Linked DNA regions of Homo sapiens. Each later gene encodes a partner of the first gene's protein in a complex. Each region holds a gene or a part of one and is shown in the gene's direction. Other genes may lie near its edges. The genes, in order: CDC40 and RBM22.

Region 1 (8,845 bases):
TTAGTATTAACATAATCCTATAATTCAGGTATTTTATTATTTAAATAGGCTTTAGTGGGCTGTCTGTGACTCTAACCACTAAGTATACTGTTTCTGAGAAAATAAGACTCAAGTTCCAAACCATTTTACAAGTTGTAAAATGTAATCAATTGTGTAGTAAGTTAGAACTACCAATTCACAAAGACTCAAAATTATAAGCTGAATGTGATAAACTTAAAACACAAGATTCTTAATTTTATAAAAAGTTCCACTTCAGGGGTCATTTATTTTTAACAACTAGGTACTCAAGCATTCAGCATAGGATTTAATTTACATATATCTTTTTTATTACTATTTCACTAGAAAACGTAAGTCACAAAGAATCAAACACACTTCTATCTAGTGTAGGAAAAACAAAAAATATGTTAACATACATCTTCATAAAGTGAGCTATAAGAAGAAAATTGTTAATATTTCATAAATCAAAGACTACTAACATATACATTATTAAGTATCTAGTGCCAGTTCAAAAGTGTACAGGTAATGGAATTATATCTGAGCAGGTAAATGGAGTTCAAAGAACCTTGAAATTCATTTTTCTCTTTTCTCCTGAGATAAAGTTATACATTTCATTAATTATAATGTTTGATAAATCTTTAAAAATGTTTCACTAAATATATTAATTCAATGGATATTCTTTACCCATTCATTTTATTTGTTCAACAAAGAAAATTGAGCCCCTGCTATTTGTTAAACACTATACTAACAACTTTGGATTTATGACAATAAGCTGCAGGTCAGTTTCTCTCCTCAAAGAACTAAGAAAAACCACGACTTTACTGCATTTACCCAAGTGACGGTGTCAGCTAAATTTTAATTCATTTAAGAAAACATTATAAAACAAATTCTCAAAAACGAAACCATACAATAGTAACTTTAAACACACTTTAATAGTCTTATCTATATGAAGTTTTCTCACAAAGTAACCAAAAGCACTGTTTTGGTAAAAGTGCTAATAACATAATCTTTTGATAGTAGTCCAATAAGGAAATCACAAGGTACTATGTACTGTGATAATGAAAATCCAACACTTGGAAAAGATATCTTAAGTTATTCCTAAAATAAAGCAAAATGTATAATTAAATATAGTCTTATACAATATTAAAACTGTCTCTGAATATATGAATATTTACAAACATGAGTAATAAAGTAACTCTATAGCATACCTTATAAATGATCACAACTATGTATTTTGGATTGTAACACCTGCAAATTTGTAACAAAAAGGGCCTTAATATTTTTCGAATATATTATTCTTCACTAACTTAATTCAATATTCTACTTATTATCAAGTCATAATTTTTGTTTACTATTAACTATTTTATCTATATGTTTAACTATATGTAGGTATTAACTGTAATAACCTTTATGTCTGCAATTATTTAAAACCCTTGATAGATGAGAAACATTTTTCAGTTCAGAGGCATACCTCTCCAAAGCAAAAATCAATGTTAATCAGCCATTCTAATATGCCATGGAAAATCCTGACATTTTTTCATTGTATTTTTCACAGAAATTTTTTAATCATTCATCAGCTAAAAGATTTAAATTTTCTTTAAAAGGACTACAAAAACACACCTTTCCTGAATTTATGCACACTACCTACTAAATATTATCTCCATTTACATATAAGGAAACCAAGGCACAAAGGTGTCCATTTTGTAAATTGCAAGGTCATTTCCTAACCAAGCAACTAATCCTACACCATCAACTTATATTATATGTACGCCACTTCCAAGTGCCATAAAACAATTACTATACCTTAAAACTGCCTCTGCAATGCTTATGTGATTCTCTTTTATCAAAAGGGTAAATGCAACAAGCTTAAACAAGGAAAGATGGAAAAGGAAAATTATAAAAATACAACACTTACTTTTTATAGTGAATCATTTATTTTTAAATAATGAGATGTAAACAGTTTTTAACATAAAAATCAAGTAACCAACAGTGGTTTCTTATATTTGCAAAAAAAAAAAAATTTCATCCTTCAGGTAGATCACGCAAAACTGAAGCCTACTCATACTTGTAGATTCAAGTTAGAAAAAAAAAAACTGGATTCTAAAACAAGTAATTAAATACATGATATTGCAAAGAAAAAAGTGAATAAAAAATAAAATCAGATAAATTAGGGAATGACTGATATGATGGTTAAAATCCTCATCTTAAATATTAAATCCTTCCATTCAATGGAAGGCAACGATTAGTAATGACATATTCTGCTACCGAAAAACAAATACAAAACTTTTCTTATTCAAAACTTCCGAAATTTTATATCAAATACTTCATTCAAATATTCAATATAAACAAAAATGTTTCCTAACAGAAACTTAGAGCATAAAGGATAAACTGTTCCTGAGAGTTCAAATTGAGACTGCATTTCTAATTATGATATAATGCTATGAACAATCAGAAAAATGAATGTTACCTACCATGCAAATTTAAATTTAAGAACATTAGACGGATTGAATAACCAATAAGTCAATTACATCAATTAGTGAACAGAAAAAAGACCTTAGCTAATCGTGAATCTAACACCAAAGAAAAAATTTAAGTCGAATCCACCGCACATCTTATTACATAGAAAAGGAAATGATTAGAGTAAGTCGTATTTAAGTACCTAGTCTAGCTGGGGATCAATTAATTAATCGGTTATAGGGCAGGACGTGAATGTTGAGATCGGATGTGCTTTCTTTCATCGTTATTCCAGTTCATCATCCGCAAGTGCAAGAGAAGGTGTCAGAGTACCGAAGCTAGGGGGCATGCTGTAGCAAGGGGAAAAGAAAAATGGGAAAGGTGCAATGGATGCTGCATAGTTGAATAATTATCTGGGTGGCACAATGGGCGAGTCCTGCCGACATGAGCGCTGAGTGAGCGGCTCCGTAACTCTGCCCAAGGCAGCCCCCATGAACAGGCACCAGAAGCGACAGCACCGCTTCGCCTCCCCTTCCAACGAAGAAAAGGATGCCCGCACTCGCTTTACCGTTATGTTTTCAGACACCGACTCGCGGAGCAAACACGCAAACGCACGAGCTCGCTTTACCGAGCCTCGCGCACGTAGGGCGAGCAGGGGATTCTCTGTCGCCCGGGGCTACCGCCTCCCCCGGAAAGAGGCACGGGGCGGACCGCGGGCGCGGGTGGGCAGGGAAGCCCGGGCGGTGGCACCTCAGGTGACACCCACAGTCTCTCCAGCGAGAGCAGCCCCGGGGCGGTCCCTGCAGCCAAGCCCCAGGCGCGCCCGCCGCCGTCTCCCTCGGCACCCAGCCCCGCTGGCGGGTGGGCGGTGGGCGCTCGGAAAACCCGCGGATGGGGGTGGGGGCCGGGGCGGGGAAGGCGCGCCCATCCATCCCCGTCACCTTTGCGGGCCACACACCACTCGGTCTGCTCCGGCCAGTAAGGAAGAGTTCCTCTCCCAACACCCCCTCCCCGAAAAAAGCAATTCCTCAGGGACTCGCGCTCACCGTGAAATCTTGGGGGCTCACGCCTTACCCCTTCTTCATGCTTCGGCAGCGGTCGCCGGTCCCCCTCGGCTCGCGGGACTCCGCCTAGAGCCCCCAGGAGGGTCGGGCTCTGGGGCGGAACCCGCTCAGGGCAGCGGCCCAGGCGCCAGGCCACAGGGAACGCCGCCTGGGGCGCCAACCCGCCGCCGGACCCACCGTGTGCTCGACGCGCGAGTGAACAACACCGCGAGCTGCCGTTCCCCCCGCCCCCTCCCCGCGCGAGACGCTCCACAACCGGGCGCAGGGACCCGCGCCAGAAGCAGGGGGGACCGCGAGACTCTTTCCGCCTATGGTCCCATCCTTGCCCCCCGCCCCAGGAGCTATTCCTGGCCAGTCAGAGGTCTCAAAACTTCAGATTCTCACTTTCCTCTTCAGCCTCCAGTGCCCAGGTGCAGCCGAGGTGGGAAATCCAGCCTCCGCCCACTCCCCCATTAGTGGGGCCGAAGCTCGCTCTTCCCCCCTTTCCTGAGGTTCTGTGGTATTGCCCAATCCTCAGTTTGGGGGAGGGGGACGAAGAGAACACTGCTTGGCTAGGGAATGAGGGAAGATGATAGCCAATTGAATGGAACATCCATTCGGGGGCGGGGTCAAAGGGGGACACGCCCCCGTTCCGCCCCCTCGTTGCAAACTACACTTCCCATTGTGCCCTCTCGCGCTTCCTGCCGCGCTGCACGCTGGGAGTGCAGGACCGCGAGGCCTCAAGGTATTTTGGAACTCATATTCTTTAGTCAACTAGGTCCTAAATGTTATAAACTATTATAATTCTCCCTTTTTCCCTAGATAAACTTTTTTAAGCTCTCAGCTCGACAGTAGTTATTCTAATAATAATTAGCTTATTGTTTCAAAATGTAAGACATTATTTCTTAGCAAAGAAAGTTAATGATGTGTTCCATTGCAATCTGTCAGGACCTGGGAGCCTCTTCTTCTTCCGCCCTGGCAGGGTCTCCGCAGAAGATTTGTTGCCGTCATGTCGGCTGCGATTGCAGCTCTGGCCGCTTCCTATGGTTCGGGTTCAGGGTCCGAATCGGACTCGGACAGTGAGAGCAGTCGGTGTCCGCTGCCAGCCGCCGACTCCCTCATGCACTTGACTAAATCGCCTTCATCAAAGCCGTCTCTAGCAGTGGCAGTGGACTCGGCTCCGGAGGTGGCAGTTAAGGTAAGCACTTTTGCTACTAATGCAGTGTGGGAATTGTTGGCTTCAGCTCCAGAACTGCCAGCCGCTTGTTAGGTACCGGGTTACCTCTTTCTCAGTGCTCAGAGATAAGTTGCTAACGTTTGAATTTCTTCTCCTTCCCACATGCATCCTCGGGAGAGGCAGAATTGGAAGTTCGGAATAGCCCTCCGATGCTCTCTGCCCTTGCCTCCCGCCATCAGAAAGCAAGTGGAAGGAGGGGATGAAATTTGAATTTGTGGATTAGGGACATAGCCTGGAAAGTGCAGGTGTAATCTCGGAACATAAGTGAAATTAGATCAGGACTTCCCAAACTAGAGTATTGTGTGAGCAGTGGCCTCGATTTGTCTTATTTTTGAAGAACTAGGTTCTAATCCTGGCACCACCACTTGTGTGAACTTGGACAAGTTATGCAGCCTCCTTTCTTTCCTCACCTGTACAGTGGAGATCATTTTCAAAACATCTGTCTACATGAAAAGATGAGTGTGAAAATTGAGTGAAATTACACAAATAAAGCATATAGCACAGAGCCAACTAGTGAGAGTGCAGTAAATGTTTTATGATTGTGTGTGTTAATACAGTGAGAAAAAGGCCTTGGATTTGAGAAACAGCTGCATGATCTCAATGGAGGAAGCTGATTAATAAGGCAAGAGTTTCCAGGCAGAGGTGACAGGCAAGCCTGAGAACGCAAAGAGCCTAGTGGGTTTGAAGAACTGAGGAAAAGCTGATGTGTCTGGAGCCTGATGAGAGCATCTACCAATTGGTAGTGTAGGCCCAGTAGAGCCCGAGGTAGGTGATCAGCTCAAGATGTGAAGAGGGGAGGCGGTGTCCAAAAATTCCTTTGTATCATGTCCCCAAGTCTAGTTTAATGACTTAAGAAGTGTTTTACAGGTTTTTAACAAGCTGTATGTGAATTTTACTTTTTAAAAATGGACATCTGTCATGAAAGAATGCTTAGAATCCTCCTAACTTCCTATCAAAACAAAACTTTCCAAACTTAAGCCCCTCCAGTAACCTCCTGAGTCTTCTCCTTTCACAGCTCAGCTTTTTGGAGCTCTCTTTTTGTCTTCGTCTCATTTTCTCCTCAACCCAATGCAGTCTGGCCCTATCCTCTTGGGAAACTACTGTCTGTGAGTGATGTCCCAGGCCTTCCAGTTGTCAAGTTCAGCCATCTGACTTAAATGTCTGCATCAAATGACACTGTTCATTAGTTCCTCTTTCTTGAAACTTTCTCTCCGTTTCGCTTCCATGGGGCTCTACTCAGCATTCTGTTCCAATTATTTTACTCTCCCTTTTCAATACTGGTGTTTCCCAGGACTCTGCTCTTAGTCCTCTTTGCATTCCACATATTCTCCCATACCTTCAACCTCAGGCTGTGCTGCTTCTAGCTCAAGGTGAACACCGTGAAATGGTTAGCACAGGCTCTGGAATTAAGACTGTAATTCAAATCCTGCCTCCAGCACTTACCCACCTGGGGACCTTGGATAAGTTACTTAAATGCTCTGTACCTAATTTTTGCTGATCTGTAAAGTAGGAATAACAGTAGTACCTATCTAACAGAATTATAATAATTGTCATAAAAGATGTAAAGCCCTTTTAACAGTGCCACACACAATGAACACTAATTAAATGCTTGCTATCCTTTTATTTCCAGTTCTATCCTCCTTGCTAGCTTACGATCTTGAGAGGTATATAAAAATCTCCCACAGTAATTGTACATTTGTCTTTTGCAGGTTGGCGCTCAGCCACCTCCAATTCAGTGTGTCGAAAAATTATTTTCTTTCCCTCAAAATCCACTTCTGTTTTTCCTATTTTGATCTGTCATCCCACAATCCACCCACTAGTTGAAGCCGAGAACAAAGAAGGTATCCTTTTCTCTTCCTTCTTCCTCAGCCCCTGAAGCTAGTCATTCAATTGATTCTAACATTGCTGTTTCATTAATTTCTCTCACATCAACTCCTTCCTTGCTATTTTCACTGGTGCAGGCTTCATATCTTCCTTATTTCTCCCAGGAGTTATTCTTTTCTTTCTCTTTCAGCCTTTTTGGGTAGTGGGTTCTGTCCACTTTAACTCAATGATATTCATCAAATCTCTCTCTTCTGCTGCCACTGTTTAGTTCAGATTCTCATCATTTCTCTTCAGACAGTTGTAGCCTTCTAACTGATCTTTCTACTTCTTCCTTTCTTGTCTCCCAGTTTTATACCCCATTCTTTTCTCCACAGTGCACTTAGAATGATCTTTGTAAATTCCACTTACATCGTATCACTTCCCTGCCCAAAGACACCATGTTGTCCAATGGGTGATTTCTAAGTTTTTTTGGTAGCATGTGAGTCCTGCTATTCTCCCATGCTGAACTCTTTACAAAGCCCTGAAAGCCGAATTTTCTTTCTTCCTCTGAAGATTTTGCCCACGCTAGTCTTTCTGCCTGGAAATCCCTTGCCTAGTGCCTCCTTCCCCCACTCCAAACACTGTGGTCCTTCAGTCTCAGTGTATATGTTTCCTCCTATTTTACCTTAGCCCCTTTATCATATCTTAACTATAGCACTTAGCACATTGCTGTAACTTGTTCATCTTTTTCTTTCCTCTGGACTGTGAGACCCTGGGGTCCAGAGACTGTTGTATCCATTCGTTTGTGTCTCCAGTGCCTAGTACACAAGATTAGGGAAGTATATTTGGTAAGAGAATGGAATGAAAAAGAAAGTCTTGTAAAAGTATGCACATTAAGAATCAGAATTTTAGAGCTGGACATGCAGTGGCAGGGATGGGGGTGTTTGTCTAGAGCTCACTTAGTGCAATCACGAATAAATAAGGGAACCCAGGAGGAAAGGCTGCGTAAGGTACCAGAAGTCCATTAGAGGTAGAGCTGGGGCTAGTCCACCCAGTGGTCTGGGTTCTATGAGAGCGTAGAGGGCATTGCTCATTGTTGGTTTATGAACCAACACTTGTTTATATGAAGGGAAAACAAACTTACACATAGTAAATATAATGATTGCAAATGATTGGAAAATTGGAAAATGACCAAGGGAGATGTGAAGCATGCAAATATATTCATCTGTAGTTGACTAATTGTATTATGATTAATAGCAAGCATTTTGGCAGAGAATACATTTTTGCAGCGTTTTTAATCTATGTTTTTTCCGAGCTGTTTCCTGCAGTTGAGTATCTTTTAATATGTTATTGGTGATTTAATTTTTTTTTCTTTGGAAGCAACTATTGGGTTGTCATTTCCTTTTGATTTTTAGAAGACCTTTACATATTCTGGATACTATCCTTTGTCAATTGTGTGTGTTGCAAATTTTTTTTCTTTTGTGACTTGTCTTCTCACTTTTCCCTGTTGTTTACAAACAATTATTTATGTAGTCTGTGCTTGTCAAATTATTCCTTTATGTATCGGGTTCCTGTTGCTTGTTTGAGAAATCCTTAACTCATAGTCATGAAAATATTCTCTTGTATTATCTCTTGAAAGCTTTTCACATTTAAGTCATTAATCCATATGAAATTAACTTTTGTCTATAGTGCGAACATTCTTAATAATATGGCTTGATAGGTGATAGGGCAGTTCCCTTGCCCTTTTTTGTTGGCTCTTCTTGGCCCTGTAATTCTATATACAGTTTAGAATTAAGTTGGAAAGTTCTGCTAATACCCAGTTGGGATTTTGTTTGGGAGTACATTGAGTCATAGGTCAACTTGGAGATAATGTTATGTCCGTTCATTTGTTTAGGCCTTTTTTTAGTTTTGTTTTTTTTTTTCTCCCAAAGTTTGTAATTGTCTCTGTATCAAAATCTTGTACAGTTTTATTGGAGGTATTTCTCGGTGGATCTTATTTTTATGCTGTTAATAAACAGTATTGTATTTTTCATTTATTTAACTTTCTAACTTAACTACTATGTAAGTACTTTCTACTACTTACATAGCCATATCAGCTGCAAATATGACAGTATTTTTTCTTTCTTTTAATCATTATTTCTTTTATTTATTGTTCTTGCCTTGCCATGCTTACTACCGCCTCCAGGAAGATCTAAAATAAAAATAAAAAGGATGTACCAGGCAAATTTTAACCAAGAAAAAGCTAGCACTGTTTGTGTTAACATCAATAAAAATAGACTTTAAAGCAGAAAGCATTACTGGAGACAAAAGA
Region 2 (9,496 bases), on another chromosome or scaffold:
TCTCTCTGACCTTCTGCCTTCCTGTCTCTGGCCCTTCATTCTTCCCCAAGCCTAGCCACAGACACTGAATCCCTTTTCCTCAAGGTGGGTCATAGAGAGAACCCCTTTTCCCCAAAGCCAGCCATAAAATGTAAAATACTACTCTAGGCCGGGCGCGGTGGCTCACACCTGTAATCCCAGCACTTTGGGAGGCAGAGGCAGGTGGATCACAAAGTCAGGAGTTCGAGACCAGCCTGACCAACATGATGAAACCCTGTCTCTACTGAAAATACAAAAATTAGCCAGGCATGGTGGTGCGTGCCTGTAATCCCCGCTACTCAGGAGGCTGAGGCAGGAGAATTACTTGAACTTGGGAGGTGGAGGTTGCAGTGAGCCGAGATCGCACCATTGCACTCCAGCCTGGGCGACAGAGCAAGACTCTGTCTCAAAAAAAAAAAAAAAAAAAAAAACTACTCTAACTTCCGCCTTGCTTTTGTGTAAAAACTGGCTCTGAATAAATTATCTGAGCTACTTTGTTTTAGATTGTAGGTCATAAGACCCCCATTCCAAAGACGGTCCTGTACATACCCAGAAGGAAGGAATGCTGCCGAGAGAGGCCAAGAATCTAGACAGACAGGCCTCGCTGGGTTTCCCCACTCAGTCTATTAGCGCTAAATCAGTACGCTTTTTGTCCAATCCTATTTCTACATAGCTGTCCATACTTTGTTGAACCTAGGCATATAAATGGACAATTTCCCATCTGTGTCTTCATTCTGAAGGCTCCTATGTCAGGTAAAACTATGATCAAATAAATTTGTATGTCTTTTCTCCTATTAATCTGCCTTTTGCTAGTTAATTTTCAGTGAATCTTAAGAGGGCAAAGGGGAACTTTTCTGTTGGCCCCTACAATGTTAAAAAATCTGGTGGAAAACATGGAGCCAGGTGCCATGGCTCACACTTGTAATCCCAGCACTTTGGGAGGCCAAGGCTGGAGAATCACTTGAGCCCAGGAGTTCCGAGACCAGCTTGGGCAACATGGTGAGACCCTGTCTCTACAAAAAAGTTAAAAATTAGCTGGGCACCGTGGCCTGCTTCTATAGTCACAGCTACTTGGGAGGCTAAGGCTGGAGGATCCCTTGAACCCAAGAATTCCAGGTAACAGTGAGCTATGATCATGCCTGGGTGACAAAGTGAGACCCCCATCTCGAAAAAAAAGAAAAGGAAAATATGGATTATATATATTGTGAAAGGAAATTAAATCTTGGGACCCCAAACTCATTAAGCCAAAGGGAAAAGTCGAGCTGGGAACTGGGTCACACAAACCTGCCTCCTGCTTTTGGTTCCTAAATAAGATGGCTATAAGATGAAAAGCTACATGCCTCCCCCATATGTTGCCCAGTAATTCAGACCCTTCCATTAAACCAGCAAACCTTTTTCATTTACAATCTCATTGGACATGTTTGGTATTCCAGTGCTATGATCACTTAGCTTCAATCTTTGTACCACAGATAGGTATCGAAGATGTTATATGGCATATAGAGGCCATAACGAATTACACCCAAAGGCCCTAAATGGTAGCTGCATGAGTACCTCTTTGCTAAGCAATGAGGTCATGCTTATGAGGAAAGCTGTGTTGCAAAACTATGTGGCTTTAGATATACTCATGGCAGCACAAGGGGAACCTGTGCCACCGTAAAAACTGAATGTTGTGTGTATATTCCAGATGAATCAAAGAACATAAACTGAATTATGACCAGTATGAAAACCCAGATAAGCAACTGTCAGATCCAAAACCCTCACTAATCCATTGCTTGAGTGGTTGGTTTGGATCCTGGGGAATTTAGTGGCAGAAGCTATTGCTTATAATAGAAGGAATAATTTATGTTCTGTCCTGTTTCTGCTTACAATGTTGTTATAGTACGTGTTTGCAAATAAGTCAATATGCAACCGAAAGGGCTAAGGTAATGATTGCCCAGAGAATTGCTTTAATTGAGGAGGCAGTAATATAATAAAGCTTGACCCAGCTTCCAGGTTTGCTTTCCTTTTGTTGCTATAAATCTGGCCTAGTCCCTATATATATTTTTTCATCTCTTTTCTTTTTTCCTTTCTAGGAAAGTAAAATTCCTCACTAGGAATTTCCTTGTGGGCAAAATATGGGGGAGGCATGTAGCTTTCCATCTTGTAGCCATCTTATTTAGGAACCAAAAGCGGGAGGCAGGTTTGTGTGACCCACTTCCCAGCTTGACTTTTCCCTTTGGCTTAATGAGTCTGGGGTCCCAAGATTTAATTTCCTTTCACATTTCCCCCTTTTTTTCTTTAACATCTTTTGGAGAAAGCATTTTAAAAGGAATATGTGTTCCTGGCCTCAGTTCGCTTTTTCCTCCTTTTTTGAGCTGGTTTCTTGTCGCTAGGATGGTTTATTCCAGGAAATTCAGGTCTCACGTTACTAGGAAGGCTCATTCCTAGGAAGTCATGTTCCATGTTGCTAGGAAGGCTCATTCCTAGAAGTCATGTCCCACAAAGATTAAAAAATAAATTGGGGGAGGAAAGAGGGAAAAAGGAAGGAAAGGAGATGATTCTGAGGGCTCCAGACTTAAAGGAGAAAAGGGTCCTATCTCTTTTCTCTTAATGTTAAATGTTATTTTGTTTGTGGAATGTTCACTCTATAATATATATGTTGATTAAGTATACCATTATGCATGATTTGCAATATTGATTGACCTGTGGAGTGCCTTGAGCCTGTGTGTCCAAGACTCTGAGTGCTGAGTGAGTGGGAAGTACTAAGGAGAATTGCTTTCTTGGAAACTCCATGTAGTTCGTGGCTTTTGTGATTGAAATAGCATCAGTAAAAGTCTGGCATTGTGGAAAAACACAAATGTACGTGGACTCTGTTATTTCTGACCTTGCACTCCTCACAAGGCATGTGAAATTGGAGTCACAGATGTAGAAACCAGGCAGAAGACAGTCTGAAGAGATGATACTTGAGAATTTTCCAAATATAATAAAAGACAACAAATCACAGATCCAAGAAGCTCAGATAAACCCAAGGACTTTCTTATAAAGGAAAAGATATACTTACCATATGATCAAATAATCTCACTCTAAGGCATTTACACAAGCAAAATGAAAACCAATGTCCATACAACGATCTGTATGTGAATGTTTATAATGGTTTTATTTATATTCACTAAAATCTGGGAACAACCCAAATATCCAGCAACTGGCAAGTGAATTGTATGATATATCCATACAATGGAATTCTACTCAGTAATACAAAGGAAGAAATTATTGATACATGTAATAATATGGATGAATCTCAACTACAAAATACTAAGTGAAAAAATATCAGATCCAAAAGGATATATAGGATTCCACTTATGTGACATTCTGGAAAAGGCAAAACTAGGGACAGAACACAAATTAGTGATTGCCATGGTTTGAGTATGGGATAAGTGGACTAACTACAGAAACAAGGGAACTTTGGGGATGACAGACAATTCCATATTTGACTGTAAGTGAATGTATGTACAAAATTCAAAACTAAAAAGGATAAAACTTTATGTAAATTATACTTTAAATCAACTTTTTTTTTTAATGAGGTGATTTAAATAAATGTGTTAGGTAGCTTGATGACACGGTAAGTATGAAAGTGGTACCAGAATGGCTTGAAACTCATAAAATATTGGCAGAGTGGTTATGAGTTATTCCAAAAATCAAATAATGCATATGTTGATTCGTAAGACCCTTGTCATTTCAGAAGCTGGAAATGAAACAGTACTAATGAATTTGTGGCTTCACCACTTTTTAGCTCCACAACCAGGAGCTATATCAGGAGAGATTAGGTTAATCTCTCTAAACCTGTTTTCTTTTCTATAAAAGAGGGATCATCATACTTGCCTACAGGGTAGAGTTACCAGATAAAATACAGGACGATTGGTTAAGTGATGTGAATTTCAGGTCAACCACGAATCCTACTTTAGGACGAGTAGGTACCATATATATTTATAATTAAAAAGCGATTCGCCGTTAATCTGAAATTCAACTTTAGACGTTCTGTAATTCGTGCGTGTGTGTGTGTGCATGTGTGTGTGTGAGTGACAGAGAGAGAGAGAGAGAGAGAGAGAGAGAGAGAGAGACAGAATCAGAATCTGGCAGCCCTACAGAGAGCCCTACAGAGAGGTTATGCGAATAAATAAGACACTGGAACCGCAAGACGTTCGCCCAGAGTTTGGCATAATAAGCGCCTCAGTGGTAGCGAACGCTATTTTAACCCCAGCCTCTGATGCATTACGTCTTCCTTTATTCTTTCGCCCAATTGTTAAATGAATCAACTGTACGTGTGGCCCTTCATTCCAAGCAGGCAAAAACTCGAAGGAAGCATCCAGGTGCATTATACCAGGACCCCAATTGTTAAGCTTAGAAATTCCAAGAGCGGGCGACGTCATGACGCAAAGGCCCCGCCCCGGAAGAAGCCCTAGACGCGTAAATAAGACGCCGACCGGCGCGGCGCTAGCCTCGGGGCTTGACGGGATTGTGGCGGTCCTCTCTCCCAATTCGGAAGCTACAGCTACCTCCGGACGCTCTCAAGATGGCGACCTCTCTGGGTTCCAACACCTACAACAGGCAGAACTGGGAGGATGCGGTGAGTGTGCCTGCCGGAGGAGGATGGAAGGAGGAGGCGAAGCCGCGCACCTTGCAAGCTGGCAGGACAGGGCCTGCGGCGCGGCCGAAGGAATACCGGGGAGGAGCCAGCGCGGCGGCCTAGCTTGGCCGGAGCAGGAGGGCGGAGGGCGATCCTCCTGCGGGCTTGAAGGGAGGGGGCTTAGCCAGGGTCCCGGGACCAGCACCCTTTCCATCCCTGCCCCCTCCAGCCTATTAGAGCTGGTTTTCTTTTCTCCCGCCGCCTGCCGGAAGTGCAGACAGCGCCCCCTCCCGCGATCGGGTCGTGATGGACTTCGGGTTCCTGCCGTGCCTAGTTCCCCACCCTCGCTTCCCGCCCCCTCGCCACCCCAAGTGTCACTGAGGTGTCAGGGTCTTCGGAGGGTGGTCCTCAACCAGATTTCCCATTTTCACCAGGACTTCCCCATTCTGTGCCAGACATGTCTTGGAGAAAACCCATATATCCGAATGGTGAGTGATCGCGTGTGAAACGAGTTATTCATGTCCTGTCGATGTTGTGGTACTTGCACACTGTGAAGTGTTTCTCTTAGACAAGCAGAAAAAATGATGCTCTTTTACTAACGCGAAGTGCTGGACGACTTGCAAAGAACTGTCATGTGTATTCTCTTACGAATCCGGTAACACTCCTGTAATGTAGGGGTAATAACGATAGCTAGTATTTGTTGAGCATTTACCTAGGAAATAGGTCTGTTGACCAGAAGGTGAGAGCGTTTGTGTCTTTTCATACAATAGTAAGGAATGGAGCTGGGATTTAAGTTCACATATTCTGGCTCTAGGAATGTCAGCATGATAGGAGGAGAACCAGAACTAGAAACTAGGTTTCCTGAATCCTGGTCAAATGCCTTTTGGCCAGTGTACTTTATCTCTTTAAAGTAAGCATTCCCCCTTTGTTACAAACTAGGGTAAAATTAGAACCAGTTAACAATAATAAGGTTAGGGCTGTATTATTGTGTAGTCGTAGAGGTGTTGATATGTTAGTATGTTCACGATGTTTGAATGGTTCAAGATGTTTGAATAGTTCTGTTTAAACAGAACATTTACTATATTCCGGGCATTGGCACAGGACAAGTCTACAGTAGCTACCTTTTGACTAAACTTTGTAAAGTGGGCGGGCCACAGCTGTATCCTCTCTGATTTAGGGATTGTGGAAAGCATTAGGAATGTTAGTTCTTGGGAGTGAACTTGGGAGCCAAAAATGAACCTAAGAGTTGTGGCTGTGGAAAGACACTCACTTACCTAGCATTAGATGCATATACTCTATTTCTTTTTTCTGTAGAGACAGCATCTCGCTATGTTGCCCAGGCTAGTCTGGAACTCCTGGGCTCAAGCAATCCTTCCACCTTGGCCTCTCAAAGTGTTGGGATTACAGGCGTGAGCCACTGCCACCCAGCCCAGATCCATATACTCTTGAGATGTTATCACTTATAATATGTTGTTATAGTATGTTCCCTACCCTCTTCCCAAAAAAGGTTGGGTTTTGGGTTTTGTTGTTGCTGTTTTTCTCTCTCTAGGATGCCAGGGATTTCCAGACACATTTCTTGGGTTATGTTTAAGGAAAGAGTAGACATCTGGCTTTTTTCTTTCTGTAACTCCAGTTCTTTTCTATTTTTTTTCTATTATAGACCAAAGAAAAGTATGGGAAGGAATGCAAAGTAAGTATGTCTGTTAAAGAGTAATGATTTCTGTTTCATTTTTCTTTTCTCTACCAAATTAGCCTTCAGCTTACTAAGTTTTGAGGTCTTCCAGTAAAAATCAGTGCTATACAACTTTTTATGTATTACTGATATATTCATTGGCTGGCAACTGTTTATGTGGGAGGTAAGAAAATGAACCCTCTAATGTAGAGATTCTTACGGTGTCAGTGGATGGGCACTGGAGGAGTTTGTACACCAGGTGGTGTATGACTGTCCACTCGAGCATTTTAGCTGAGGAGGAAGGTCATTCTTGTCAGAAGCTTCTCAAAAAATTACATGACACTCCCCACTCCCCCTAAAAAAGATTAAGGTTCAGATTATTATTGGTGCTTAGCTCTAGGATGGGAAGAACTTTGACCCTTTGGCTATTTCATTTCTGTACTCTGAATTTTTGCTGGAGAAGGATGCTGAAAATTGTATTGAAACATCAAATCAACTAGATGATTGCTAAGGTCTCTTCTAAATCCTACATTCAGGGATCCTTTTTTGAATGCCCCGTTGTTATCAGATCTCCAGATTGCCCAGATCAGGACCATTGACATTCTATGGCTCTTGCTTTGTGTTCCAGATCTGTGCCAGGCCATTCACAGTGTTTCGCTGGTGCCCTGGAGTCCGCATGCGTTTCAAGAAGACTGAAGTGTGCCAAACCTGCAGTAAATTGAAGAATGTCTGTCAGACCTGCCTCTTAGACCTAGAGTATGGTATGTTTGACCTGTCCAATAAATCTGAAAGTGTGCAGGTGCCTAAAACTACAAGTCAGTCTTTTGTCTCCCACTTCGCACCCTAGCTCTGGTTCTGATTTCACTTTGGAATGTCTGCCGTGGTCTGCTTTTCCCAGGAAAAGAACCATAATTAGGCCACTCTAGAGTCCTGAACAATAGTAGGAACTTAAGGAAAAGTTGGGAATTAATCAAAAGTGGCCTAAACCTTCATCTCTGTAGCCCAAGTGAGGTAAAAGGCGTTGATCCTATGATAGATAATTTATTTGCCTTAGGCTTCTTTCTTGATCCAGAGCTTTTTTCCACCATCCCAATCAGAAGCTCACAGGGTAATTGTGCTTTATTTTATTTTATTTTTTGAGTTAGGGTCTCACTCTGACACCCAGGCTAGAGTACAGTGGTGTGATCACAGCTCACTGCAACTTCGAACTCCTGGGCTCAAGGGATCCTCTTGCCTCTGCCTCCTGGTATACCACCACACCCAGTGCACGTGTGTGTGTGTGTCACTATTTTGCCCAGGCTGGTTTTGAGCTTCTGGCCTCAAGCAGTCCTCCCACCTTGGCCTCCCAGAGCCACTATAGCCAGCCTAATTGTGCTTTAGACTTTTATTTCAATTGTGTTGTTAGAACTGATATATTGCTACTGTTTCAGAGTAACTGCTTTTGGGAGTAATTTTTTTTTTAACCATAGGTGACTGTTTTTCAGAAAGATAATTTTTCAACAAGAGTTTTTACTATTAAAGGAAAGGGAAAAATATATGAGTTTATGTATGTTAAGTTCATTAGAGTTACTCTTCTAGTCAGAGTCCTGGCCACATTTTATGTAATATTATTTATATGTTTGTTAAGGAGGCGTCTGGTCCTGGAGTACAGTGACCCTTAGATGACTGTGACTATCCAGAGGATCTGTAAGACTAACCTAGAAAGAAACCACTTTTACATTTACTTTAAATAAATCATGTTGTAATAAAAACTAGGAGCTAATTTACAGGTTGAATATGACCATGGGCACAGTTTGTTCATCTAAAAATTTTCTTTTATAATTTTTTTGTTTTTTGTTTTTGAGACAGGGTGTCACTCTGTTGCCCAGGCTGGAGTGCAGTGGCATGGTCATGGCTCACTGCAGCCTTAACCTTTCCAAGCTCAGGTGATCCACCTCAGCCTCCTGGGTAGCTAGGACTACAGGTGCATACCACCACACCCAGCTAATTTTTGTATTTTTTGTAGAAATGGGGTTTCACCACGTTGACCAGGCTGGTCTCGAACTCCTGGACTCAAGCTATCTGTCAGCTCCAGCCTTGCAAAGTGCTAGGATTACAGGCATGAGCCACCACACCCAGCCTAAAAGATTTTTTCTAAAGCATTAATTTCATCAAATTTCCTGACAGTTCAGGAATTTGGACAATTTCTTAGCATGCTGTGTAGCAGAAGTAACCTGATGGTGCTAAAGAGTTTGAATAAAAACATAGTAAAGTCTCTGGTACTAAATAGGAAAGAGGAGAAGGGAAAGATGATGTATTCTGTGTGCATGGTTAGTATGGATATGTTTTAAAATACATCTGAGGTCTTTTTCCTCTTTTTTTGTACCAGGCCTGCCCATCCAGGTTCGTGACGCAGGATTGTCTTTTAAAGATGACATGCCAAAGTCAGATGTCAACAAAGAGTACTATACACAGAATATGGAGAGAGAGGTATGCTGCCACTTTTTGGATAAAAATCCTAATGAATTGACACAGTCTGTATAATTTATCTTTTGAATTTGTCATCCCCACTTAGATTTCTAACTCTGATGGAACACGGCCAGTTGGCATGCTGGGGAAAGCCACATCTACCAGTGACATGCTGCTCAAACTGGCCCGGACCACACCCTACTACAAAAGGAATCGACCCCACATTTGCTCCTTCTGGGTGAAAGGAGAGTGTAAGAGAGGAGAGGAATGTCCATACAGGCAAGAGCGAGCCTCATTTTCAGTATTTGCTTTCAGATGATTTCTCATCTAAGAAGTGGGAGGTCCTAACTTAAACTGTTTCTGCTTTAAAATCTAAAGGTCATACAACTAATGTGGTATACCTCATGTCTTAGAACTATGAAATTTAGAAGAGCATGAATAAATTGTAGTTTTTACTTACAATTGAGCCTTGGAAACTAAATTGCTATGCCATACAATATAGATGCTGACCCTAAACATTTCTGCCTGAGAAGTAAATCTTCACTGCCATGGTTTAAATGAGTTGACTCTCAATGTATAGTTGAAGTCAAAGTAAGGTCAGACTTCTAAAGGGTGTGTATGTTTTGGTTAAGACTGCCAAGCATCTGGATTAGGAGTTCTTAATTTGGGATTGGTTAACCCCACCCCCTAAAAAATAATGTATGTGCTTTCTCTGGGGCGAGGTTCATAGCTTTAATCAGATTCTCAGTGGAATA

What was found.
Region 2: CDC40 (region 1) and RBM22 share a complex: the UniProt entries of both Homo sapiens proteins name them as parts of the postcatalytic spliceosome P complex.

What each region holds. Positions count from the first base shown.
Region 1 is NC_000006.12:110,175,942-110,184,786, forward strand, and holds the start of CDC40 (pre-mRNA-processing factor 17), read left to right. Parts: upstream 1-4,485; 5' UTR 4,486-4,503; coding exon 4,504-4,692; intron 4,693-8,845. UniProt on the Homo sapiens protein: Required for pre-mRNA splicing as component of the activated spliceosome. Plays an important role in embryonic brain development; this function does not require proline isomerization.
Region 2 is NC_000005.10:150,696,057-150,705,552, reverse strand, and holds the start of RBM22 (pre-mRNA-splicing factor RBM22), read left to right. Parts: upstream 1-4,490; 5' UTR 4,491-4,567; coding exon 4,568-4,621; intron 4,622-5,055; coding exon 5,056-5,109; intron 5,110-6,281; coding exon 6,282-6,311; intron 6,312-6,921; coding exon 6,922-7,054; intron 7,055-8,661; coding exon 8,662-8,762; intron 8,763-8,847; coding exon 8,848-9,020; intron 9,021-9,496. UniProt on the Homo sapiens protein: Required for pre-mRNA splicing as component of the activated spliceosome. Involved in the first step of pre-mRNA splicing.